Regions from separate parts of the Homo sapiens genome. Here regions 2, 3, 4, 5 and 6 are each linked to region 1. Evidence: fine-mapped expression QTL. A gene starts in region 1. Each other region holds a variant in brackets. All regions are shown on one strand. Distances are between the middles of the regions.

The links.
Region 2: its variant is fine-mapped to the expression of MAN2B1 in whole blood (INTERVAL, PIP above 0.99).
Region 3: its variant is fine-mapped to the expression of MAN2B1 in whole blood (TOPMed, PIP above 0.99).
Region 4: its variant is fine-mapped to the expression of MAN2B1 in lung (TOPMed, PIP above 0.99). The same link has a PIP of 0.9 or more in T cells, atrial appendage, blood mononuclear cells, esophagus muscle, monocytes and nasal epithelium.
Region 5: its variant is fine-mapped to the expression of MAN2B1 in whole blood (TOPMed, PIP 0.98).
Region 6: its variant is fine-mapped to the expression of MAN2B1 in whole blood (TOPMed, PIP above 0.99).

What each region holds. Positions count from the first base shown.
Region 1 is chr19:12,664,859-12,668,943 of GRCh38, forward strand. MAN2B1 (mannosidase alpha class 2B member 1) reads right to left here and starts at 1,884. Exons shown (of 24, transcript NM_000528.4): 1 at 1,685-1,884; 2 at 845-947; 3 at 494-667; 4 at 1-127. The coding sequence starts at 1,843. WDR83 (WD repeat domain 83) reads left to right here and starts at 1,949. Exons shown (of 11, transcript NM_001099737.3): 1 at 1,949-2,134; 2 at 3,650-3,769. It overlaps WDR83OS (WD repeat domain 83 opposite strand), which reads right to left. Exons shown (of 4, transcript NM_016145.4): 3 at 3,662-3,759; 4 at 3,215-3,567. The coding sequence ends at 3,501. RefSeq lists enhancers at 1-502, 327-376, 503-1,450, 517-566, 1,107-1,156 and 2 more and a silencer at 1,747-2,026.
Region 2 is chr19:12,703,067-12,707,143 of GRCh38, forward strand. TNPO2 (transportin 2) reads right to left here. Exons shown (of 26, transcript NM_001382241.1): 14 at 3,504-3,729; 15 at 3,130-3,301; 16 at 2,616-2,702; 17 at 2,426-2,533; 18 at 2,174-2,332; 19 at 648-735; 20 at 362-460. It overlaps SNORD135 (small nucleolar RNA, C/D box 135), which reads right to left and starts at 605; the gene lies at 531-605. SNORD41 (small nucleolar RNA, C/D box 41) reads right to left here and starts at 3,452; the gene lies at 3,383-3,452. RefSeq lists enhancers at 1-378, 379-987. The variant C/CT (reference allele first, on the strand shown) is at 1,624.
Region 3 is chr19:12,628,407-12,632,492 of GRCh38, forward strand. It overlaps ZNF791 (zinc finger protein 791), which reads left to right. Exons shown (of 4, transcript NM_153358.3): 4 at 1-4,086. The coding sequence ends at 854. Among named protein-coding and RNA genes, the nearest start is that of ZNF791, 20 kb to the left of the region's middle. The variant T/A (reference allele first, on the strand shown) is at 2,212.
Region 4 is chr19:12,619,260-12,623,345 of GRCh38, forward strand. The region is part of intron 1 of ZNF791 (zinc finger protein 791); the gene reads left to right. Among named protein-coding and RNA genes, the nearest start is that of ZNF791, 10 kb to the left of the region's middle. The variant A/G (reference allele first, on the strand shown) is at 1,801.
Region 5 is chr19:12,807,320-12,811,388 of GRCh38, forward strand. RNASEH2A (ribonuclease H2 subunit A) reads left to right here. Exons shown (of 8, transcript NM_006397.3): 3 at 1-10; 4 at 100-187; 5 at 2,752-2,889; 6 at 2,998-3,085. Among named protein-coding and RNA genes, the nearest start is that of RNASEH2A, 2.8 kb to the left of the region's middle. The variant C/T (reference allele first, on the strand shown) is at 2,310.
Region 6 is chr19:12,555,960-12,560,045 of GRCh38, forward strand. It overlaps the pseudogene PGK1P2. Among named protein-coding and RNA genes, the nearest start is that of LINC02926, 6.3 kb to the left of the region's middle. The variant C/T (reference allele first, on the strand shown) is at 2,125.

The DNA.
Region 1 (4,085 bases):
CGCCCATCATTGCCAAATGTGTCCTCCAGAAAGCGCAGCCCAAGTGTCATCTGGTCCACGATGGCACCGTAGTGGGTGGCTGCCTCATCGTTCATCACCCAGCCACCATTGGCGAACTCCAGGCGCCCTGTGCCAGGACAGGCAAGGTCAGGGTCAGCGGTCAGAGCCAGGAGTGGGAGTAGGGTGGGTGATACTGGGAATGTGAAAGCCTGCCTGTGTACACATTTCTGGCGGAAGGACAAGAGGGGTCGCTCCCAGGCCATAGTTCCCAGATATGGGAAAGAGGCCCCCTGCATGGCAGGCTTCCCAGAGGATGCACAGCAGGTGGGGCTTTGTGGGATGTATAGGAGGTCTCCAAATGGAGAGTCCAGGCAGGCGGAGCGACACGCATGTTATACAGCTTGCACGTGGCATGACAAATCTCAGAAACCAGAGATGCAGAAGCAGAAGCTGGGCTGGGCTTCCTCTTTTCACTTCCTTGGGGTAGGCTCACCCTGGCGCACAAGGTCTCGCACGACTTCCTGTGTGGCATTTGTCTGCTGGTGCCACCAACGGGAGAAGAAGGCAATCTCCACGTAAATGAAGCGACGGGTGGGATCTGCCAGCAAGGCAGAGATGACCGAGTCCAGGATGTACTGCACACCGGCGTGCTGGATGTCATTCTTGACTGTGGATAACAGGGATAAGGCTCTCAGGGAACAGCAGAGCCAAGGGGGTTATTCCTAGACAGAGGAGCCCAAACCCTGGATATTAGGGTAGCACTGGCCCCACCCTAATGTCCAGGACCCAGAGGGATTACAGGGACCATGGGGATCCCAGGGACCAGTCCCCATCCTCTACTCACTTCCATAAAAGTACTGGTCCACGGTTTTGAGCCAGCCCACGTCATCATGTGTGTGAGGCAGCAGGTGCACGTTCAGCATGTTCGGCTGCACTGTGGGGCATGTCTGCACAGGGACCCCAAACACACATACCTTGTCAATAACCCCCGAGGTCGGGGGCTGCAGAGTAAGTCTTGATCTAGAGGTGAGTGACTCAGAGAGGCCTGATCTCGCCTATGTGCAGAGGAGGCCAGGCCCTCCCAGGCAGGACACACACATACATAGTTGTGCTCATAGATACAACTCCACTTTGCACAACCCCACAGGGCAGCTCTCATTCACACTCCGGGAAAATAATAATAGAAGTAGCTGATGTTTGTTCAGCATTTGCCGACAGCAGACGGCCACCGTGGGAGGTGGGGTGATGTTATCCCCAGTTTCCAGATGAAGGCACTGAGGCTTAGAGAGGATAGGTGACTTGCCCAACGTCACACACTCAGGAAGTGTAAGAGCTAGGCTGGAATTTCAGGCAGACTCCAGAGTCCCAGCTCTCAGCCAGCACCTCCCCCCACACATACACTGCTCACCCCCTGCCACCTCCTGCCCCTCCAATCCCACAGTTAAGTGCAGACAAAGTCTAGGCAAGCATCCCGGAGACACGGAGGCAGGTACAATCAGACACAGTCCTATACTCAGATGCGCACAGCCAGACCTCGCAATGACACAAAGCACGCACTCAGACCACACTGTCATATCATCAGCCATTCACTAGACACCCACAGGACAGACCCACCCACACCTCTAGACTGTATTCTGGGTTTCACTCTGCCTCCTGTACGTTTCAGCTCGGAGGCCCCACTCACCTCGTATCCCCCGGCCCGAGCACCGGCAGCCGCCAGCAACAAAAGGAAAAAGCAGAGAGGCGGGAGCGGTGGCCGCAGGGCGCGGGACATGGTCCAGGGGCCTGCTGAGTCCAGGCAGCCGCGAGCGCAGACCCCCGAAGCCCGCGCGTAGGCGCCCATGGCTCAGCAGCTTCCTCCTGGGGTTCCCCGGCCCTGGAAAGGCCGGGCAAACGCCCCGCCCCCAGACCCGGCCGGGCCAATCGGGGTGGGGGGCGGGGCCAGGGCGCGGTCTGGAGGCTCACGGGAGAGAGGCTGTAGCCCTGGGCAATCCCGGGGGTCGTTACAGGAAGGTAGGAAAATGCCACCCTCAGGGCACTGGTTGGGCTAAAGGTGACACTGGCGTCTCACGGGCTATGAAGACGGAATGCCTCTTAATGCCGGAATTCCAAGACGGAATGCCTCTTAATGCCGGTAGGAGCAGAAGTGCTTTTCCTAAGGGGGCCGGGTTTTCCTAGCCGGTGTAGTGTGTCCATGGGAATCCAGGGTGTCCGTCCCATGGACCTTCAGCGCTAGGGTCCTGGAAGGACCTAGCTTGCCTAAGAGGAGGATCTGATGAAGAGTCCTATACTGTGGGGATTGGGACGTTGGGTAAATACCCCTGGAGTACCAGGGATGGGATCCAGCCTGGTTGAGAAGGATCCCTGGGTGTTCCGGAGAGAAAAGAGGGTCTGACAAGTGGGGAAGGACCCCGAGTCTTTCATGCCTTTCCCAATTCCTACCAGTTCATTCTCTGATAAGAAAACAAAGCCCAGGGCAGGCGCAGTGGCTCAAGCCTGCAATCCCAGCACTTTGGGAGGGCCAGGCTGGTGAATCACTTGGGCCTGGGAGTTTGAGACCAGCCTGGGCAACATGGGTTGTTTTGTAGAGACGGGTTTGAAAACACAAAATTTGTAATTTTACACAAAATGTAAAAATACAAAAATTAGCTGGGCATGGTGGCACATGCCTGTAATCCCAGCTACTTGGGAGACTGAGGCAGGAGAATCACTTGAACCTGGGAGGCGGAGGTTGCAGTGAGCCGAGATCAAGATCATGCCATTGCCCTCCAGCCTGGGCAACAAGAGCAAAACTCTGTCTCAAAAAAAACAAGAATTAACTGGGCATGGTAGCACGCATTTGTGGTCCCAGTTACGTGGCAGGCTGAGGTGGGAGGATTGCTTGAGCCCAGGAGTTTGAGGCTGCAGTGAACATAGATTGTGCCACTGCACTCAGCCTGCATGACAGATCAAGACCATTTTCTTTCTTAAAAAGGAAAAAAAAAAAAGGAAACCAAAGCCTAGATTATCTAGGTCAGCAGGGCCATCTGGTGAGTTGCCAGAGGGCAGAAGTCACTGTCTTGTCCCTAGCACCTGACTTAAGACACAAGGTTTATGAAGTAAGCAAATGAACAGCCAGAAGCCTCCAGACTGGGGCCCCACACCAGGCCTATGGGGCTAGAGCCCTTCCCGCCAGGTAGGAGGAACACCCCACTGAACAGAAGAGGCTGACAGCCAGAGTGAAAAACTTTATTAACAACAGGTTTCAACGAGAAAGCAAATGAATACCCCTAGAAACATGGACAGCATCTCCCCCAGCAGCAGGCAGGGGAAGGGAGGCAGGAGGGGTAAGCCTAGGGTGTTCCCTAGGAAAGGGCCAGGTTCCCTCTATCCAGCTGGGGGCACCGAGACGGCCTCATTCAGGGAAGTCCAGGATGGCAGCTGAAGGCAGCAGGTTTAGCAGCCAAAGCCCAGGCCTAGTGGATAGACAGGGTCCAAAATGTGACCCTTCTAGGCTGGTATCACCATGGGGGCGTCATGGGCTGAGGATTCTGCAGATAGGACATCACCACGGCAGAGATGGACAGCCTGAGACAGGAGAGAGGTGTCAGTCTAGGATGGCCAGGCTGGGGTCCCCCCACCCCTTACTCAAGAGTCACTTGTTCTGTAGGGCAAGTCTCACATGAAGCTACTCATCATTTGCTTCGTGTCCTCCGAGCTCCGAGAGTTGGCAAAGCTGATGAAGGAGCAGTAGACAGCGACCCAAGCACACCACTTCAGCTAGGGAAAGGTAAGTGGGTGGGCAGGTTAGTGAAAGGCACAACAATGAGTCCCCGAAGCCACCTTTCCAGACACCAGATCATGCCCACTGATTCCATCTGATGCAGCTGGGACCTTGCCCCACCCGGAATTCCTCAGTCCCACCTGCTCATGGCATACTCTAGATACGTGGTTTCTAGTCCTACTGTCTGGCCTGCGTCTCTCAGGACCAAGAGAGACTCTGACATCCCACATGCTTAAGACCCTGCCCTTTTTCCACAACTCCTCTCCAAGTTGCTTCAAAGCCTGGCCCCACTCGCAGACCAATCTGCCACATCCCCAACCTG
Region 2 (4,077 bases), 38 kb after region 1:
ATCCCCACCCAGAATCCCTGGCCAACCAGGGACAGACCCACACCCTCCAAACAACAGAGGCTTCTCTGGAGTCGCTAAGGTGACAACACGCTGCCCAAGTCAAAGGAAAAAAAAAGCCAAAGTCACCCAACCAATCCGAATGAGTCTTTTAGCCAACTACACAAAACGGTCCAATCAGAACAGCCCTCCTATCCCTCCTCTTTAGAGAAGCCAATCACAAATGACCTTTCTGCTTGGCTCCACCCCTGACGACCCCCAAGAGACTTGCCTTGAAGGAAGCTGTCAGTCAGAGCTAGGCTCCCGCCCCCAGGTTGAGAACAGGCTAATGGGGGGCGCGTGTTGCCACTTGCAGGGCACTCACCCATCTGCATGCAGATTTCACCAATGGCCCAGGTGGCGTTGTTGCAGACGGAGATGAACTCTGGGTTCAGGTTGGTGCCCAGAATGGGCATGAACTCGGCTGGTGGGGAGAAACAGGGGTGCTGAGAAGGAGGGCCAGCCAGGGTAAGCTGCAGGACCTAGTCCAGCAGGCCCCATCAGACAGTACGAATACATCCCAATGTGGTCACAGTCATCCCCGGGTATTGCTCTCCATCACTTGAGGCCGGGGCTGGGGTCATGGGTTAGGGACAAGGCGAGTGTCGTACCGATACAGGGCTTGACATGGATGAAGCAGGCTTTGGTGAGGTCTCCCAGGAGGGCAAAGGAGCTCTGCCGGACCTCAGGCATCGAGTCCTGGGGATTCAAGTAAGATCAGTGTGGCTAGGCTCCCCTCCTTCTAACCAGGACAGCTCAGGGGGCACAGTCCCTGGTGCATGTCCAGCCTCTGCCACTTTCCAGTTCTAGAGCTCCTAGCTGTTCCTTAACCTCCCTAGCCTCCAGCCCACATCTGCAAATGGGAGATGGCAGTGCCCCAACGGTCATCCCTCAGTGTCCGTGGGGGATTCTTTCCAGGTCCCTGCAGATATAAAAATCCACGGATGTGCAAGTCCTTGATATAAAGTGGCACAGTGTTAGGGCCAGGCGCAGTGGTTCATGCCTGTAATCTCCAGCACTTTGGCAGGCCGAGGCAGGCAGATCACTTGAGGTCAGGAGTTTGAGACCAGCCTGGCCAACATGGCAAAACCCTGTCTTTACTAAAAATACAATAAAATTAGCCAGGCATAGTGGGACACGCCTGTAGTCCCAGCTTCTTGAGAGGCTAAGGCAGGAGAACTGCTTGAACCCTGGAGGTGAAGGTTGCAGTGAGCCGAGATCACACCATTGCACTCCAGCCTGGGTGACAGAGTGAGACTCTGTCTCAAAAAACAGGTGGGGGGCGGTGGGGGGGGCATAGTGTTTGCATATGCACCTATGCACATTCTCCTGTACACTTAGCATCATCTCTAAATCACTTATATCTAATACAATGTCAACAGTATGGGAATAGTTGTTATACTGTATTGTTTAGGGAATAATAACAAGAACAAACTTCTGTATGCGTTCAGTACAGATGTAATTTTTCCTCTGAGTATTTTCAATCTGAGGTTACTTGAATCTTGGGATGTAGAACCCACAGATACAGAGAGCCAACTGTGCTGGGGCAGGGACTTGGGCTTTCACATTTTCTATTTTCTTTTCTTT[C/CT]TTTTTTTTTGAAGACAGAGTCTCAGTTTATTGCCCAGGCTGGAGTGCAGTGGCATGATCTCAGCTCACTGCAACCTCTGCCTCCTGGGTTCAAGCAATTCTCCTGCCTCAGCCTTCCAAGTAGCTGGGATTACAGGCGCCTACCACCATGCCTGGCTAATTTTTGTATTTTTCGTAGAGACAGGATTTCACCGTGTTGGCCAAGCTGCTCTCAAACTCCTGACCTCAAGTGATTCACCTGCCACAGCCTCCCAAAGTGCTGGATTATAGGCGTGAGCACCTGGCCTCACATTTTCTATTTTCAATACTGTTTGCTTTAAAAAAAATTTTTTTTTTTAATTTTAGAACTGGGGTTTCACTATGTTGCCCAGGCTGGTCTCAAACTCCTGGGCTCAAGCAATCCTGCCTCGGCCTCCAGGATTACTCTTTAAAATAATTAGAACAGCACCTTTTCCCTGATTTCCTTTGGGCACAACCAGGCCCTGACTCCCCACCAGGGGCAGCCCACGCAGGCTGCTGGGTGTCATCACTGTCCAGGGTCCCCACCCACCTGCATGCACTGGAACAGCAATGTCATGATGTTGCTGCGGGCCACCAGCTGCTCCACGTGACCACCCAGGCCCTCGGCCAGGCCGCTGAGCAGATCCAGTGCTACGATCATGAAGTCCTTGTCGGGAGCCTCATACTGCTCAGGGTGCTGGGTGTACATCTAGACACAGATGCCGACAGGGGCACGGGTAAGTGGAGCAGGCCCGAGGCAGGCCAATGCAGAAGCACAGGTGACGGGCCTAGGGTTGCTCACCATGGCCTGAGCCAGTGTCTTCTGCACCAGGGTGACACAGCGCTGGTAGACGGGCTCACAGTAAGGCAGGAAGCCACTCTGCAGGGCGGTGGCCACCGATGACAGACACTGGCAGGGAGGAAGGCAGGTGGGGAGAACTCAGGCAGGGTGGGCAGGATGGGTTTCGGGTGAGGGGCAGGAGCCCACTCACCTCCAGCAGGGGGAAGAGGTCCTTGTCTTCGTCCTTGAGCTCATTCCACTTCTGGATCAGTGGGGGCATCAGCTTCTGGATGTATTCCTGGAGAGGGAGCACGAAATGGGCGCTCCCTGGGTCGGGGTGGCAGACTGTGACTCAGGTACCTGTTGCCCGAGTGATGAGGCCTGAGCGCCTCACCGTGGCTCATGGGACCCTGAAAGGCCTGCCATCTGGCCAGACCTCGAGGCCTTCATTCTTCTCACCTGTCCAAGCACCGCCCGCCCCACCCCACCCCCCGGGAGCCTGGGTTACCACCTCCTGGTTCCCGAAGCACAGCACTTACCACGCTGTCTCATAACTGTCTTTCTCCCCCACTAGACTGGGAGCAGGGCGAGGGCGGGGCCGGGTCTGTCTGTCTGCCTGTCGAGGTCACGGCCACGTCCCTGGCGTGCAACACGGGGTTGCCACCAGGTCACTGGATGCCCAGGGGCACGGGGATCGGGAGGCGGGAGCCGCTCTGGGGTCTCACCGGCTGGTTGAGGTGGTGGCCTACAGAGTCGGCCAGGGTGCCAATGGCGTCATAGAGGATGAGCAGGTTCTTGTGCTGGTATTTCCCAAAGGCAAAGACAAGGGTGTCCAGGATGTAGCTGAGGTAGGGCACCAGCTCCGTGCAGGCCTCTTCCTCCAGGGTGGCAAAAGCACTGGTGGGAGGGAGGATGAAGCGGGGGCTCAGTGGACCATGGCAGGTGACACTGGGCCATGGGCAGTTGGGGAGGGCAACTCAGGATCAGCCAGTACGAATACGCGATAAATCAGTTCCACATCAACAGTCACAGGTGTCATCACTTCCCAGAGGGTGGCCGGGGGAGAGTGGGGGCTGTGGGATCAGGGGTCCAGGGTCACCTGCAGGCCGCCTCCTGTACCCTCTTGTTGCCATCCAGGATGCGTTTGAGCAGCTCTGTCATCAGGGGCTTGAGGTGCATGTCGGGTGGCTGGCTGACCACCCAGTGGGCATAGCGGCTCAGCGTCCAGCAGGCGATGGAGCGGACCAAGGCCTTCTTATCCGACAGGCACTGGATCAGGTGCGGGATCAGCTCAGGCAGGTAGGGCACCATGCCCTGCATGCAGCCTACAAGGAAAGGGAACCAAGAGGGGGCAGTTTGATTGGGCCCAGCCACACCCACCGTATGGAGAGAAGAGTCAGCCGCACACAACATATAGGGAAACTGAGGCTTAGAGTTTAAATCACTGGCCCAGACTCATTTCACAGAGCCAGGTAAAGGCAGGCACAGGAGGGGAAACAACAGAAGCCTCTCATCCCAAAGCCCCGGGTTATCTTTATTTTTTTTTGAGGCAGAGTCTCGCTCTGTCGCCCAGGCTGGGGCGCAGTGGTACGATCATGGCTCACCGCAACCTTCACCTCCTGGTTCAAACAATTCTCCTGCCTCAGCCTCCCAAGTAGCTGGGATTACAGGCC
Region 3 (4,086 bases), 36 kb before region 1:
TTCACACTGGAGAGAAACCCTATAAATGTAAACAATGTGGTAAAGCCTTCAGATGTTCCACCTCCATTCAAATTCATGAAAGAATTCATACTGGAGAGAAGCCCTATAAATGTAAAGAATGTGGGAAATCTTTCAGTGCACGCCCAGCCTTTCGAGTACACGTGAGAGTGCATACTGGAGAGAAACCCTATAAGTGTAAAGAATGTGGGAAAGCCTTTAGTAGAATCAGTTACTTTCGAATACATGAAAGGACTCACACTGGAGAGAAACCCTACGAATGTAAAAAATGTGGGAAAACTTTCAATTATCCTCTAGATTTGAAAATCCACAAGAGAAATCACACTGGAGAAAAACCCTATGAGTGTAAGGAATGTGCAAAAACCTTCATTTCTCTTGAGAACTTTCGAAGACACATGATCACCCACACTGGAGACGGACCTTATAAATGTAGGGACTGTGGGAAGGTGTTCATTTTTCCTAGTGCGTTACGAACACATGAAAGAACTCACACTGGAGAGAAACCCTATGAATGTAAACAATGTGGAAAAGCCTTTAGTTGTTCTAGTTACATTCGGATACATAAAAGAACTCACACTGGGGAGAAACCTTATGAATGTAAGGAATGCGGGAAGGCCTTTATTTATCCCACAAGCTTTCAAGGACACATGAGAATGCATACTGGAGAGAAACCCTATAAATGTAAAGAATGTGGGAAGGCCTTTAGTCTTCACAGTTCCTTTCAAAGACATACAAGAATTCACAATTATGAGAAACCTCTTGAATGTAAGCAATGTGGAAAAGCCTTCAGTGTGTCCACATCCTTAAAAAAACATATGAGAATGCACAATCGATAGAAACTCTATAAATGTGAGAAATAGGAGAAAGTTTTCAATTCTAACAGATGCTTTCAAAGTTGTGAAAATTCCCACTGAAGAGAGAAATCCTGTCAATGTAAGTAATATAGAAAGCGAGATACAAGATGATTCATGTATAGTCAGGTACCACATAATCATGTTTCAGTCAGCAATGGACCATATAGGTTGGTAGCCCCATAAGATTATATAACACCTAAAACATTTCTATCAACCGCAATTTAGTAGCAGTAGTAACACCATAGTGCAGCACATTATTTAAGTGTTTATGGTGCTGGTGTAAACGTGCTGCACTTTCAGTTGTATAAAAGTACAAGACAGCGGCCGGGGACGGTGGCTCACGCCTGTAATCCCAGCACTTTGGGAGGCCAAGGCGGGCGGATCACGAGGCCAGGAGATCAAGACCATCCTGGCTAACACGGTAAAACCCCATCTCTACTAAAAATACAAACAATTAGCCGGGCGTGGTGGTGGGCGCCTGTAGTCCCAGCTACTTGGGAGGCTGAGGCAGGAGAATGGCATAAACCCAGGAGGCCGAGCTGACAGTGAGCTGAGATCCGGCCAACAGAGCGAGACTCTGTCTCAAAAAAAAAAAAAAAAAAAAAGTACAACACAGCTGGGCATGGTCACACCTGTGATCCCAACACTGGGAGACTAAGGCAGTAGGATTGCTTGATGCCAGGACTACTCTGGTCAACCTAGTGAGACCCTGTCTCTACAAAAAATAAAAACATTTTCTAAGTGTGGTAGCACACCCTGTAGTCCCATCTACATGGGAGGCTGAGGCAGGAGGATTGCCTGAGCCCAGGAGTTCAAGGCTACAGTGAACCAAGATCACGTGATGGCAGTCCAGCATGGGTGACAGTGAGACTGTATCAAAAAAAAAAAAAAAAAATTGGCTGGGCACAGTGGCTCATACCTGTAATCCCAGCACTTTGGGAGGCTGAGGTGGGAGAATCAGTTGAGGTCAGGAGTTCAAGACCAGCCTGGTCAACATGATGAAACCCTGTCTCCATTAGAAATACGAAAATTAGCTGGGCGTTCTGGTGTGCCTGTAGTCCCAGCTACTTGGGAGGCCAAAGCAGGAGAATCGCTTGAACCCGGGAGGTGGAGATTGCAGTGAGCTGAGATCTACCACTACACTCCAGCCTGGGTGACAGAGCGAGACTCCGTCTCGAAAAAAAAAAAATTACAGCACAGATGTGCAATATATACTTGATAATAAATGGCTAAGTTACTGGTTTATATATTTACAATCCTGTTTTAGAATGTATTCCTGTGTTTTTTTAACAGTAAGACAGTCTCAGGCAGGTCCTTAAGGAGATATTCCCGGAAAAAC[T/A]TTGTTATGATAGGCGATGACGGCTCCATGTGCAGGACTGCCCCTGAACGTATTCTGGCGGGACAAAACATGGAGGCAGAAGACAATGATATTGATGATCCTCACCCCGTGTAGTCCTACACTAATGTGTGTTTGTGTCTTAGTTAGTCTTTAACAAAAATAGTTTAAAAAAATTTAATAGAAAAAGCTTATAGAATATGGACATAAAATATTTTTGTACAGCTGTACAATGTGTTTTAAGCTAAATTATTACAAAGTTTTTAAAAATAAGTTTATAAAGAAAATAATGTACAGTAAGTTAAGGTTTATTCATTATTGAGGAAAAAATGTTTTTATGAATGTAGTGTAGTCCAAGTGTACAGTGTTTATAAATTCTCCATTAGTGTACAGTAACATCCTGGGCCTTCGCATTCACTCACCACTCAACTGACTCACCCAGAGCAACTTCTAGTCCTGCAAGCTATGTTCATGGAGTGTCCTATGCAGGTGCATCCTTTTTTATCTTTTATACTGCATGTTTACTCTGTGTATTTTCTGTGTTTAGACTCATAAATACTTAACATTTTGTTACAATTTCCTACAGTGTTCAGTACAACAACATGTTGTATGGTTTATAGCCTAGTAGCAATAGACTGTACCATATAGTCTAGATGTGTTGTAGCTATACCATCTAGATTTGTGTAAGTTCACTTTGTGATGTTTGTACCATGAGGAAATCACCTACAACACGTTTCTCAGAACATATACCCATGATTAAGCAATCTCTGCCTGTAAAATGCTCCAGAAAATTCACACCATGATATAAATTCATCACACACGATATAAAAGTTAAGGCAAGGCATGGTGGCTCATGCCTGTAATCCCAGCACTTTGGGAGGCCAAGGCAGGCAGATCACCTGAGGTCAGGAGTTCGAGACCAGCCTGGCCAAGACGGTGAAACCCCATCTCTACTAAAAATACAAAAATTACCTGAGCGTGGTGGCATGCACCTGTAATTCCAGCTACTTGGGAGGCTGAAGCAGGAGAATCATTTGAACCTGGGAGGTGGAGGCTGCAGTGAGCTGAGATTGTGCCACTACACTCCAGCCTGGGCAACAGAGCAAGACTCCATCCCACACACCAAAAAAAAGTTAAAAATTTTTTATCACTGGCTCATTCTTCAAGTACATCTCTGGACTATGAATTGTAACTTAACTACTTTTCCAAGAAGTCTTGGAAGTGAGATAATTCTGTAAGTACTCTTTAAGCAGTGGTCAAAAGTTTAAAAGGTTGTGTTTTCTCATTAAATCAGTTAGTAAAACTTTTCTCTTTCTCTTGATGTCTTGATTCATGAGTAAACTGAAGTGTATTTTTTTTTTTTCGAGACGGAGTCTTGCTCTGTTGCCCAGGCTGGAGTTCAGCGGTGTGATCTCGGCTCACTGCAAGCTCCGCCTCCCGGGTCCACGCCATTCTCCTGCCTCAGCCTCCCCAGTAGCTGGGACTGCAGGCGCCCGCCACCATGCCCAGCTAATTTTTTTTGTATTTTTAGTAGAGATGGGGTTTCACCGTGTTAAGCCAGGATGGTCTCAATCTCCTGACCTCGTGATTCGACCGCCTCAGCCTCCCAAAGTGCTGGGATTACAAGCTTGAGCCACCGCACCCGGCCTGAAGTGTATTTTTTTTTTCTTTTAAAGACCAGTGTTAGTAGAAGTGTATTTTTAATATACAATTAGTTTTAATTTGTGTATAGTTTTTCAGTTGTTCTCTGAATAAAGAGATTGTTGAATACTGACACACTGTAACTAGGATTTTTCCTACTGGCCTCATGTGGAAGGTGGTGCATATATTACCCATTATATATTTATTTCACCTTTTCCGAAAAACTGCTTTTTAAAT
Region 4 (4,086 bases), 46 kb before region 1:
TGCTCCTACTATTTTTGTTTCAGTCTGCAAGTGCAAACGCACAATAAATTCTCTGGTAGTTGGAAAAAAATTACTGGATCTTGGTCAAGTTTAAATTTACAAACTTAAAAAAAGTGGTGGAGTGTATCAGTTGATCCTCCGTTTGTACATGATTGTTCTCTGTAGTCATCAACACTAATGTTATCTTTTTTTTTTTTTTTTTTTTTTTGAGACGGAGTCTCGATTTGTCTCCCAGGCTGGAGTGCAGTGGCGCGATCTGGGCTCACTGCAAGCTCCGCCTCCCGTGTTCACGCCATTCTCCTGCCTCAGCCTCTCGACTAGCTGGGACTACAGGCGCCCGCCACTTCTCCTGGCTAATTTTTTGTATTTTTAGTAGAGACGGGGTTTCACTGTGTTAGCCAGGATGCTCTCGATCTCCTGACCTCATGATCTACCTGCCTCGGCCTCCCCAAGTGCTGGGATTACAGGCGTGAGCCACCGCGCCCGGCCACTAATGTTATCTTAATCGACTAGTTTTGTCTTCCTACTCAGTTTGAAGTGGGAACTATTTGACATTTATATCCTCATTAGCAAGGAGATGAACCTTTTTTTTCTGTTTTTTTTTCTTTTTATTATTTAGTAAAAGGCTATATATGAAATCTTTATTTATTTATTTATTTTTATTTTATTTATTTATTTTTTTGAGACGGAGTCTCGCTCTGTCGCCCAGGTTGGAGTGCAGTGGCGCGATCTCGGCTCACTGCAAGCTCCGCCTCCCGGGTTCCCGCCATTCTCCTGCCTCAGCCTCCCGAGTAGCTGGGACTACAGGCGCCCGCCACGGCACCCAGCTAATTTTTTGTATTTTTAGTAGAGCCAGGATGGTCTCGATCTTCTGACCTCGTGATCCACCTGCCTTGGCCTCCCAAAGTGCTGGGATTACAGGTGTGAGCCACCGCACCTGGCCTGTCTTTATTTATTTTTGGCTGGAGTGCAGTGGTATAGTTATGGCTCACTGCAGCCTTGACTTTGCAGGCTCAAGCAATCCTCCCACCTCAGCCTCCCAAGTAGCTGAGACCACAGGCGTGCACCACCACGCCTGGCCAAGTTTTGTATATTTTATAGAGACAGGGTTTCACCATGTTGCCCAGGCTGGTCTCGAACTCCTGGGCTCAAACGATCTGCCCACCTCAGCCTCCCAAAGTGCTGGGATTATAGGCATGAGCCATCACGCCTGGCCAAAATGTTTATTTTCTATTAAATGTAAATGTAAATAAACCTTACAGAGAGCACCCAGGCATGCAGATGGACTTGTCACGAGGGAGAGCTCCCTGGAGCCAAATTTCTTCCTGCTCAGACCATAGTCCTAATTACTTAAGAAAACCCCTTCTAACTGTGTGGATCTTTTAACGTATGGTGCACATGAGTGCATGGAAATGAGAGAACCTGGGACAACAGCCCCTAGAGTGTCTGTCTGGGATCACTTCCTCCTGAAACTGGAGAAAGGGGATTTATGTTCTTTTTTTTTTTTTTTTTTTTTTTTGAGATAGAGTCTCGCTCTGTTGCCCAGGCTGGACTGCAGTGGTGCGATCTTGGCTCACTGCAACCTCTGCCTCCCGGGTTCAAGCGATTCTCCTGCCTCTGCCTCCCGAGTAGCTGAGATTACATGCATGCACCACCATGCCCAACTAATTTTTGTATTTTTAGTAGAGGCAGGGTTTCTCCATGTTGGCCAGGGTGGTCTCGAACTCCTGACCTGAGGTGATCCACCTGCCTCGGCCTCCCACAGTGCTGGGATTACAGGCATGAGCCATCCTGACCCAG[A/G]TTTTATGTTCTTTTGGAGGTATGAAATTACCTGTTAATTTTATAATCATGGGCAAATTCACCATCAGACCATTGTGGACATCAGTGAAGTCCCCTGAAAATTGATACTGTCAATCTATTCTTCAAGGTCAGCAAAGCCCAGATGACATGATTATGGATCTTCCAGAAAGTGCTCTTCTGACATTTTATCTCAATGTGTATATGTATTTGTGCTAAAAATTGGTTGGAAGCAGTTCTGAGGCTCATGGGTATAACGATTTTGTGAAAGTCTAAGTTGTGAGGGCCCCTTCCTTGTGCCTGAGCTGTCTTCCCAGTAACTTCCTAGTCTCACGAAATGGGACAGAAAGTAAAAGGAAAAACTGGGTCTATGATAGATATTACACACACAGCCGGGCGTGGTCGCTCATGCCTGTAATGCCAACACATAGGGATATATATATATCGGAAACAAGTTGAAATTAATACGTCTCTAAAAGAGTATTTCCATTCAGTCAGCAGAATCTGAGTGCTTCTGATGGCCTCAAATACTTCAGGACGATATAGGCAGCTAGACCTTCTTAAAAGTTGGATTTCCACAAGCCTCCTGGCCTCTCATGTATAACAAAAGGGGATAGAAGATTCTCAATGTGTATTTACTTATTAAAACCTCCACCTCGGTGGGGGGTCAGCCCCCCTGCCCGGCCAGCCGCCCCGTCCGGGAGGGAGGTGGGGGGGGTCAGCCCCCCCGCCCGGCCAGCCGCCCCGTCCGGGAGGTGAGGGGCGCCTCTGCCCGGCCACCACCCCGTCTGGGAGGTGTGCCTAACAGCTCATTGAGAACGGGCCAGGATGACAATGGCGGCTTTGTGGAATAGAAAGGCGGGAAAAGTGGGGAAAAGATTGAGAAATCGGATGGTTGCCGTGTCTGTGTAGAAAGTAGACATGGGAGACTTTTCATTTTGTTCTGCACTAAGAAAAATTCCTCTGCCTTGGGATCCTGTTGATCTGTGACCTTACCCCCAACCCTGTGCTCTCTGAAACATGTGCTGTGTCCACTCAGAGTTAAATGGATTAAGGGCGGTGCAAGATGTGCTTTGTTAAACAGATGCTTGAAGGCAGCATGCTCGTTAAGAGTCATCACCACTCCCTAATCTCAAGTAATCAGGGACACAAACACTGCGGAAGGCCGCAGGGTCCTCTGCCTAGGAAAACCAGAGACCTTTGTTCACTTGTTTATCTGCTGACCTTCCCTCCACTATTGTCCCATGACCCTGTCAAATCCCCCTCTGTGAGAAACACCCAAGAATTATCAATAAAAAAATAAATTAAAAAAAATAATAAATAAAAAAAATAATAAAAAAAAGACTGTCTCAAACAAAAAAAAAAAAAAAAAAAAACCTCCACCTCATTTAATCCCATATCTTAAGGAATGCTGAATGATTTGGGTAATAAGAAATTAGGCTGTGGGCTGGGTATGGTTATTCATACCTGTTATCACAACACTTTGGGAGGCCGGGGCAGGAGGATCACTTGGGGCCGAGAGTTAAAGGTCAACCTGGACAATATAACAAAACCCCAGCCGGAGGCAGTGGCTCACGCCTGTAATCCCAGCACTTTGGGTGGCCGAGGAGGGTGGATCACGAGGTCGGGAGTTCAAGACCAGCCTAGCCAAGATGGTGAAACCCCATCTCTACTAAAAATACAAAAAATTAGCTGGGCGTGGTGGCACGCGCCTATAATCCCAGCTACTTCGGAGGCTGAGGCAGAGAATTGCTTAAACCTGGAGGGGCGGAGGTTGCAGTGAGCCGAGATCGCACCACTGCACTCCTGCCTGGGTTACAGAGTGAGACTCCGTCTCAAAAAAAAAAAAAAAAAGAAAGAAAAAAAACCCATTTATCTGGGAGTGGTGTTGCACATCTGTAGTCCTAACTACTCGTGAAGCTGAGGCAGGAGGATGTCTTGGGGGCCCAGGGATTTGAGGCTACAGTGAGTTAGGATTGCTGCACTTGAGCCTAGGTGACAGAGCAAGACCCTGTCTCTTAGAAAACAACAAACAAACAAACAAGAAATAAGAATTTATCTCATAAAGAATTGAAGATCTTGCCTGTAATCTCAGCAATTTGAGAGGCCAAGGCTAGTGAATCGCTTGAGCTGAGGAGTTTGAGACCAGCCTGGGCAACATGGCAAAACCCCATCTCTACAAAAAATATACACAAAATACTTACCTAGGTGTAGTGGTGTGTTCCTGTAGTCCCAGCTACTCAGGAGGCTGAGGTTGGAGGATTGCTTGAGCCGGGAGGACTAGGCTCC
Region 5 (4,069 bases), 140 kb after region 1:
TGCTTGGGCGGTGAGGGGTCCCCGGGAGGGGCAGCCAGCATGGGCTGACCAAGCTTTGTTCCTAGAATGAGATTAACTGGGCTCTGTTCCCCACCACAGGGTCAAATACAACCTGAACTCCCTGTCACATGATACAGCCACTGGGCTTATACAGTATGCATTGGACCAGGGCGTGAACGTCACCCAGGTGAGTTAACTGTAAGTTGTCCCCATTTGGTCATCTCAGGATAAAATGGGGACAAAACAGGAGTTCGAGACTGCAGTGAGCCATGATCATGCCACAGCACTCCATCCTGGGTGACAAAGGAAGCCCCCCAACTCAAAAATGGAGGCAGGGCGCAGTGGCTCACGCCTATAATCGCAGCACTTTGGGAAGCCGCGGCGGGTAGATCACCGGAGGTCAAGAGTTCGAGACCAGCCTGACCAACATGGTGAAACCCCGTCTCTACTAAAAATACAAAAATTAGCTGGACGTGGTGGCAGGCGCCTGTAATCCTAGCTACTCAGGAGGCTGAGACAGGAGAATCGCTTGAACCCAGGAGGCAGAAGTTGCAGTGAGCCAAGATTGTGCCATTGCACTCCAACCCGGGCAACAGAGCAAGACCCTGTCTCAAAAAAATAAAAAATAAAAAATAAACTAAAAATGGGAGACCAGGCGCAGTGGCTCACGGCTGTAATCCCAGCGTTTCAGGAGGCTGAGGCAGGCAGATCACCTGAGGTCAGGAGTTGAAGACCATCCTGGCCAACATGGTGAAACCTCATCTCTACTGAAAATACAAAAAATTAGCCCAGCATGGTGGCGGGTGCCTGTAATCCCACCTATTGGTGAGGCCGAGGCAGAAGAATTGCTCGAACCCGGGAGGCGGAGGTTGCAGTGAGGTGAGATCGCGCCATTGCACTCCAGCCTGGGGGACAGAGCGAAAAATAAAAATAAAAATAAAATAAAAAATAAATGTGGGCAAAAATGTGCAGTGTGCAGATTCAGCATCAGATACGTCTGGAGTGCCTCGGGCATATTCATTGCTACTGTTGATTTCGTGCTCCTGTTTCTGCCCTAAATGTGTGCCACACTGACGACCACAGTGTAGCCCCTAGTCCCGTCTCCATCTAATCTCTCCCTCATCCTAAAGGCTCAGTCTCCAGAACAAATCCTACATTGTCTACCTGTCACCTCTGTCCTAGCCCAGGACACCCCCCACTCCCTGGACACCTGCTGAGTGTCGTCTCTCGTCCCTCACCCTCCTATCCCCTCCAATCTGTTCCCCAAGCAGCAACAGAAGGTAGTCTTTTTGAAATGCACATCTCGACATTTAGTTTTCCGATCACAGTGGAAATTAAATCAGGAAAATTCACAGTCGAGTGGGGCAGAATTACATTAAATTACCAGAGAAAAACATAAATCAGCATTGCCTCGAATGCTCTCAATGAAAGAATGGACCGTTCTGAGAGAATAACAAGGCAAAATAACCTTGACGTAGGAATTGTATGCTGGGTATGGTGGCTCACGCCTGTAATCCCAGCACTTTGGGAAGCTGAGGTGAGCAAATTGGTTGAGGCTAGGAGTTCCAGACCAGCCTGGGCAACATAGCGAGACTCCATCTCCACAAAAAGAAGAAGAAAGAAAGGAATTATAGCAAGGTAGACCCTGCTGAGGAGGGACCTGAGGACCAGGCCCAAATGCAGAGCTGGCGATACAGTAACTGGTGTAGACAGACAAGGGCCCTACCCGTAGGCGTTCAGGGCCTAGCCTGGGCAGAAAGATGGTCAGCTGGAGGTTGGGCGCAGTAGCTCACGCCTGTAATCCCAGCACTTTGGGAGGCCGAGGCGGGCGGATCATCAGGTCAGGAGTTCGAGACCAGCCTGACCAACATGGTGAAACCCCATCTCTACTAAAAATAAAAAATAAAAAAATAAAACATGAAAGATGGTCAGCTGGTAAACAAAAAATAAAGGTTGTTTCTGAAAACAGTAGTGCTGTGGAGATACCACTTTCCCCCAGCAGCTCTTGGACCCTCTCTTCGGTGCTGCAGCCAAAGGCCCCCATGCATGGGCCCAGCATCATGAACCTGGTCCCAGCTCAGGGCCTTTGTACTGGCTGTTCTCACACCTAGAGCCCTCTTCCCCAGATCTCTGCACAGTTCACTTCCTCACCTCCTTCAAGCCTTTATTCACCACTACACCTAGCTAACTTTTTATTTTTTGTAGAAACAGGGTCTCCATATGTTGCCCAGGTTGGTCTCAACCACCTGCCCTCAAGCGATCCTCCCACTTCGGCTTCCTAAAGTGTTGGGATTACAGGCTTGTGCTAA[C/T]GCACTCTACCAATTTTTTTCTAGTGTTTTCTGCCACCTCAGTTCCTAGAACAGTATGTGGCATGCAGTAGGTGCTAAATAAGTTAGAGTAAAAGCAGCGTGATAGAGAAAGCCTCTTCAGGAGGTGAGTTTTTTCTTTATTTTATTGTATTTATTTTATGTTTTTATAAAGATGGGGTCTCACTGTGTTGCCAAGCCTGGCCTCAAACTCCCAGGATCAAGCGATCCTCCCGCCTCAGCCTCCCAAAGTGCTGGGATCACAGGCCTGAACAACTTTGCCTGGTCTAGGAGGAGATGTTCGAGTTGAAATCCCTGATTGATCCATCCTGGGGACGTGCTGGAGAAGAGGATTCTGGGTAGCAGGAAGAACGTGCCAGGGCTGTGAGGCTAGAGCATTGGTACAGTTGTTTGTTCAATTAATATGTGTCTGTTGCTGTGGCAGGTATTCGTGGACACCGTAGGGATGCCAGAGACATACCAGGCGCGGCTGCAGCAAAGTTTTCCCGGGATTGAGGTGACGGTCAAGGCCAAAGCAGATGCCCTCTACCCGGTGGTTAGTGCTGCCAGCATCTGTGCCAAGGTCAGTACCCTACTAGCCATGGCTGGCTTCCACCATCCCACTATATAGGGGCCAGGCATGGCCACCAAAGGGAAGGAGGGAGATTCCAGGTGCCTGTTTTGCCCACAGGTGGCCCGGGACCAGGCCGTGAAGAAATGGCAGTTCGTGGAGAAACTGCAGGACTTGGATACTGATTATGGCTCAGGCTACCCCAATGGTGAGCAGACACGTGACCATGGTACTAATGTTGAAATGGCCAGGGCTGAGCACACTTCTGAGGTTTTCTTTTTTTCCTTTCTGTCATTTATCATTTTATTTTGCTTATTTTTTGTTTTTATTTGTTATTTTTGTTTATTTTTTGAGACGGAGTTTCGCTCTTTTTGCCCAGGCTGGAGTGTAATGGTGCGATCTCGGCTCACCGCAACCTCCACCTCCTGGCTTCAAGCGATTCTCCTGCCTCAGCCTCGCGAGTAGCTGGGATTACAGGCATGTGCCACCACACCCAGCTAATTTTGTGTTTTTAGTAGAGACTAGTTTTCTCCATGTTGGTCAGGCTGGTCTTGAACTCCTGACCTCAGGTGATCTGCCTGGCTCAGCCTCCCAAAGTGCTGGGATTACAGGCATGAGCCACCGTGCCCAGCCTATTTTTTGTTTTTATAGAGATGGGGTCTTGTCATGTTGCCCAGGCTGGTCTCAAATTCCTGGAGTCAAGCAGTCCTCCCACCTTGGTCTTTCAAAGTGCTGGGATTACAGCCATGAGCCACCACCCCTGGCCCTTTTTTTCTTCTTTTTTTAAAGAGATGGGGTCTCCCTATGTTGCCCAGCCTGGTCTTGAATTCCTGGGCTTAAGTGATCCTCCTGCCTTGGACTCCCAAATAGCTAGGATTACAGGTGTGAACTACTGTGCCTGGCTGGAGGTTTTCTAAATTGCTCTGGTCACCCTACTCCACAGTGAAAGAGGCCAAGTGTTAGACAGTGGTGCCATTTGTTTATGGCCACACAGCCAGTGAGTGATAGAGCTGAATTCCAGGCCATAGGATTGCTGCTGTCTTCCCCGCTTCCCACTTTGCTGTCTTTCTGGAGCCCCAGTGATGGACTGAGACCCAAGGTGGGCATTTGTCCCTTTGTTAAGGGGAAGGGGACCAGGCGTGGTGGCTCATGCCTGTAATCCCAGCACTTTGGGAAGCTGAGGTAGGAGAAC
Region 6 (4,086 bases), 110 kb before region 1:
ACTGACCGTCTATAGAAGGCCTGTGTAGGCCAGGCACGGTGGTGGCTCACGCCTGTAATCACAGCACTTTGGGAGGCCAAGGCGGATGGATCACCTGAGGTCGGGAGTTCAAGACCAGCCTGACCAACATGGTGAAACCCGGTCTCTACTAAAAATACAAAAATTAGTCGGGCGTGGTGGCGGACGCCTGTAATCCCAGCTTCTCGGGAGGCTGAGGCAGGAGAATCACTTGCAGTGAGCCGAGCTCGCACCATTGCACTCTAGCCTGGGCAACAAGAGTGAAACTCCAGCTCAAAAAAAAAAGAAGAAGAAGGCCTGTGTCTATAATAGGAAAAAGCTGCTCAACTTCTCCCTCAACCTAAAATTTTTTTTATTTATTTAATTTTATTTGTTTGAGACAGAGTCTTTCTCTGTTGCCCAGGCTGGAGTGCAGTAGCGCAATCTTAGCTCACTGCAACCTCCGCCTCCCGGGTTCAAGTGATTCTCCTGCCTCAGCCTCCCAAGTAGCTGGTACTACAGGCCACACCACCACGCCCGGCTAATTTTTATATTTTTAGTAGACGGGGTTTCACTATGTTGGTCAGGCTACTCTCGACCCCCTGACCTCGTGATCCGCCCGCCTCAGCCTCCCAAAGTGCTGGGATTACAGGCGTGAGCAACCGCTCCCGGGTTTGTTTGTTTTGTTTGTTTGTTTGTTTTGAGACAGAGTCTCACTCTGTCGCTCAGGCTGGAGTGCAATGGCAGGATGTCAGCTCACTGCAACCTCCACGTCGCGGGTTCAAGTGATTCTTCTGCCTCAGCCTCCCAGGCAGCTGGGATTACAGGCACCCACCACCACGCCCCACTAATTTTTTTGTATTTTTGTAGAAATTGGGTTTCACCACATTTGCCAGGCTGGTCTCAAACTCCTGACCTCAGGTGATCTGCTGGCCTCAGCCTCCCAAACTGCTGGGATTACAGGTGCAAGCCAAGGCGCCTGGCCTTTCCTAGGAATTTTAAAACAAAATATGCAAAATATATTCATTTACGAACTCTACATTTGTCATTGCACTCCAGCCTGGGCAACAAGAACGAAACTCCGTCTCAAAAATAAATAAATAAATAAATAAAAATAAAAAATAAAATTCCTATGAAATATTGTCTTCTGAAAATTTGAGCATTTTTGCCCACTGGGTTGATGGAGACAGAAAGGGTTCTAGGCCAGAATGTTCATATTTGGAAGACTTTCAAATTATAACTGTTGTCACATGTTTGCAGTTTATTCAAGACTGCTGTTACATAGTGGAAAAATTAACTCCTTACTTCAAATGTCTAGTCTACCTAGATGTTTGGAAGTGTCCCACGTATATTAAATATAGAGGTAGTGAAATATCACTGTAAATATCTTTTTGTTAAAATTTATAGGAAACACTGCCTTTTGGAAATTGAATTGTTTAACCACCTTTGTGAGCAGTGTAGTACTGTGTATAGTTGTTCGATAGTTTAGAGGAGGTGGGAGGGAAGAAATTGCAAAAGGTAATAGGCCAGTGTGTTCATAATTGGACATTTTCAGACACTATTTTTCTGTATGTTTTGTGCATTTTGTTTTGCTCTGTATATAGCATATACAATGGGCAAATGCATCCTGATTTTGCAACATCTAATTGCTGGATGTTAAAGAGGTTGCCAGTGTGTGATAAAGTACTTAGTAAATTTAGCATATTTTGTATACTTTGTGTTGAAATTCATAGGAAACTTGTCTTCTGTGGATGACTTTTGGATAGGAGTTTGTTCAACCATCTCTAAGCATTACACATGCGTGTACTTGTCCACTGGATTGAAAGCAGAGAGAAGGAAGTGAGGAGGGAATGGTTCAAGGCCAAAATGGTCATATTTAGGAGATACCTCAGATTATAACCACGGTTACATGTGTGGAATTTTATTTAACAGTGCGTGTACATGGTGGACAAGTTAGATGAAATATCTAGTATTTCTAGATATTTGGAAGTGCTTCATGTATTTAAAAGTAGTAGTAGCATAACACTGTTTTTTGTTTTTGTTTTTGTTGAGACGGAGTCTCACTCTGTCACCCAGGCTGGAGTGCAGTGGCACGATATCGGCTCATTGCAACCTCCGCCTCCTGGG[C/T]TCAAGCAATTCTCCTGCCTCAGCCTCCTGAGTAGCTGGGATTACAGGGGTGCACCACCATGCCCAGCTACCTTTTGTGTTTTTAGTAGAGACAGGGTTTCACCATGTTGGCTAGGCTGGTCTTGAACTCCTGACCTCAGATGATCCACCCACCTAGGCCTCCCAAAGTGCTTGGATTACAGGCATGAGCCACTGCGCCCGGCAAATAATACTTTTTGTAAATAACTTTTAAAAACTGATGGGGCTGGGGCCAGGCACGGTGGCTCACGCCTGTAATCCCAGCACTTTGGGAGTCCAAGGCAGGTGGATCACGAGGTCAGGAGATCGAGACCATCCTGGCTAACATGGTGAAACCCTGTCTCTACTAAAAATACAAAAAATTAGCCAGGCGTGGTGGTGGGTGCCTGTAGTCCCAGCTACTTGGGAGGCTGAGGCAGGAGAATGGCGTGAACCTGGGAGACGGAGCTTGCAGTGAGCTGAGACTGCGCCACTGCACTCCAGCCTGGGTGACAGAGCGAGACTGTGTCTCAAAAAAAAAAACAAAAAAAAAAAAACAACTGATGGGGCACAGTGGCTCACGCCTGTAATCCCAACACTTTGGGTGGCTGAGGCTGGTGAATCATTTGAGGTCAGGAGTTCCAGAACAGCCTGGCCAACATGGCGAAACCCTGTCTCTACTGAAAACACAAAAAGTAGCTAGGCTTGGTGGTGAGTGCCTGTAATCCCTCAGCTACTCAGGAGGCTGAGGCACGAGAACCGCTTGAACCCAGGAGGCAGAGACTGCAGTGAGCTGAGATCGTGCCACTGCACTCCAACCTAGGTGACAGAGTGAGACTCTGTCTCAAAAAATAAAAAAAGAAAAAAAACTGGTGGGAAATACTCTTTGGAAGTAGAATTGTTGAACCACCTCTGTGAACAGTGTACTCTCTGTACTTGTTCATTGGGTTGACGGAGGTGGGTGAGATGAAATTTCCTGATTAGGACATTGTACTACAGCTATGCAACATGTTACCATTGAGAGAAAATGGCTGTATAATTTCCTACATGTGAATATGCAATGACCTCAAAATAAATTTTTGTTAAAAAGTACACCACTGGCCAGGTGCGGTGGCTCACGCCTGTAATCCCAGCACTTTGGGAGGCCGAGGTGGGTGGATCAGGAGGTCAGGAGATGGAGACCATCCTGGCTAACATGGTGAAACCCCGTCTCTACTAAAAATACAAAAAATTTGCCGGGTGTGGTGGCGGGAGCCTGTAGTTCCAGCTACTCGGGAGGCTGAGGCAGGAGACTGGCGTGAACCCAGGAGGCAGAGCTTGCAGTGAGCGGAGATCGCACCACTGCACTCCAGCCTGGGCAAGAGAGCGAGACTCCATCTCCAAAAAAAAAAAGTATACCACTGGATTCTGCAAACCTCCCGAGCACACGTCGGTAGCCGGCTCCCTGGCTGTCTGAATTACCAAGCTGTCTCCCCAGCTGTATTTCCAAAATGTCGCTTTCTAACAAGCTGATGCTGGACAAGCTGGACGTGAAAGGGAAGCCGGTCGTTATGAGAGTCGACTTCAATTTTCCTATGAAGAACAACCAGGTAACAAACAACTGGAGGATTAAGGCTGCTGTCCCAAGCATCAAATTCTGCTTGGACAATGGATCCAAGTCAGTAGTCCTTATAAGCCACCTAGGTTGGCCTGATGGTGTCCCTATGCCTGACAAGTACTCCTCAGAGCCAGTTGCTGTAGAACTCAAATCTCTGCTGGGCAAGGATGTTCTGTTCTTGAAGGACTGTGTAGGCCCAGAAGTGGAGAAAGCCTGTACCAACCCAGCTGCTGGGTCTGTCATCCTGCGGGAGAACCTCCGCTTTCATGTGGAGGAAGAGGGAAGGGAAAAGATGCTTCTGGGAACAAGGCTAATGCTGATCCAGCCAAATTAGAAGCTTTCCAAGCTTCACTTCCCAAGCTAGGGGA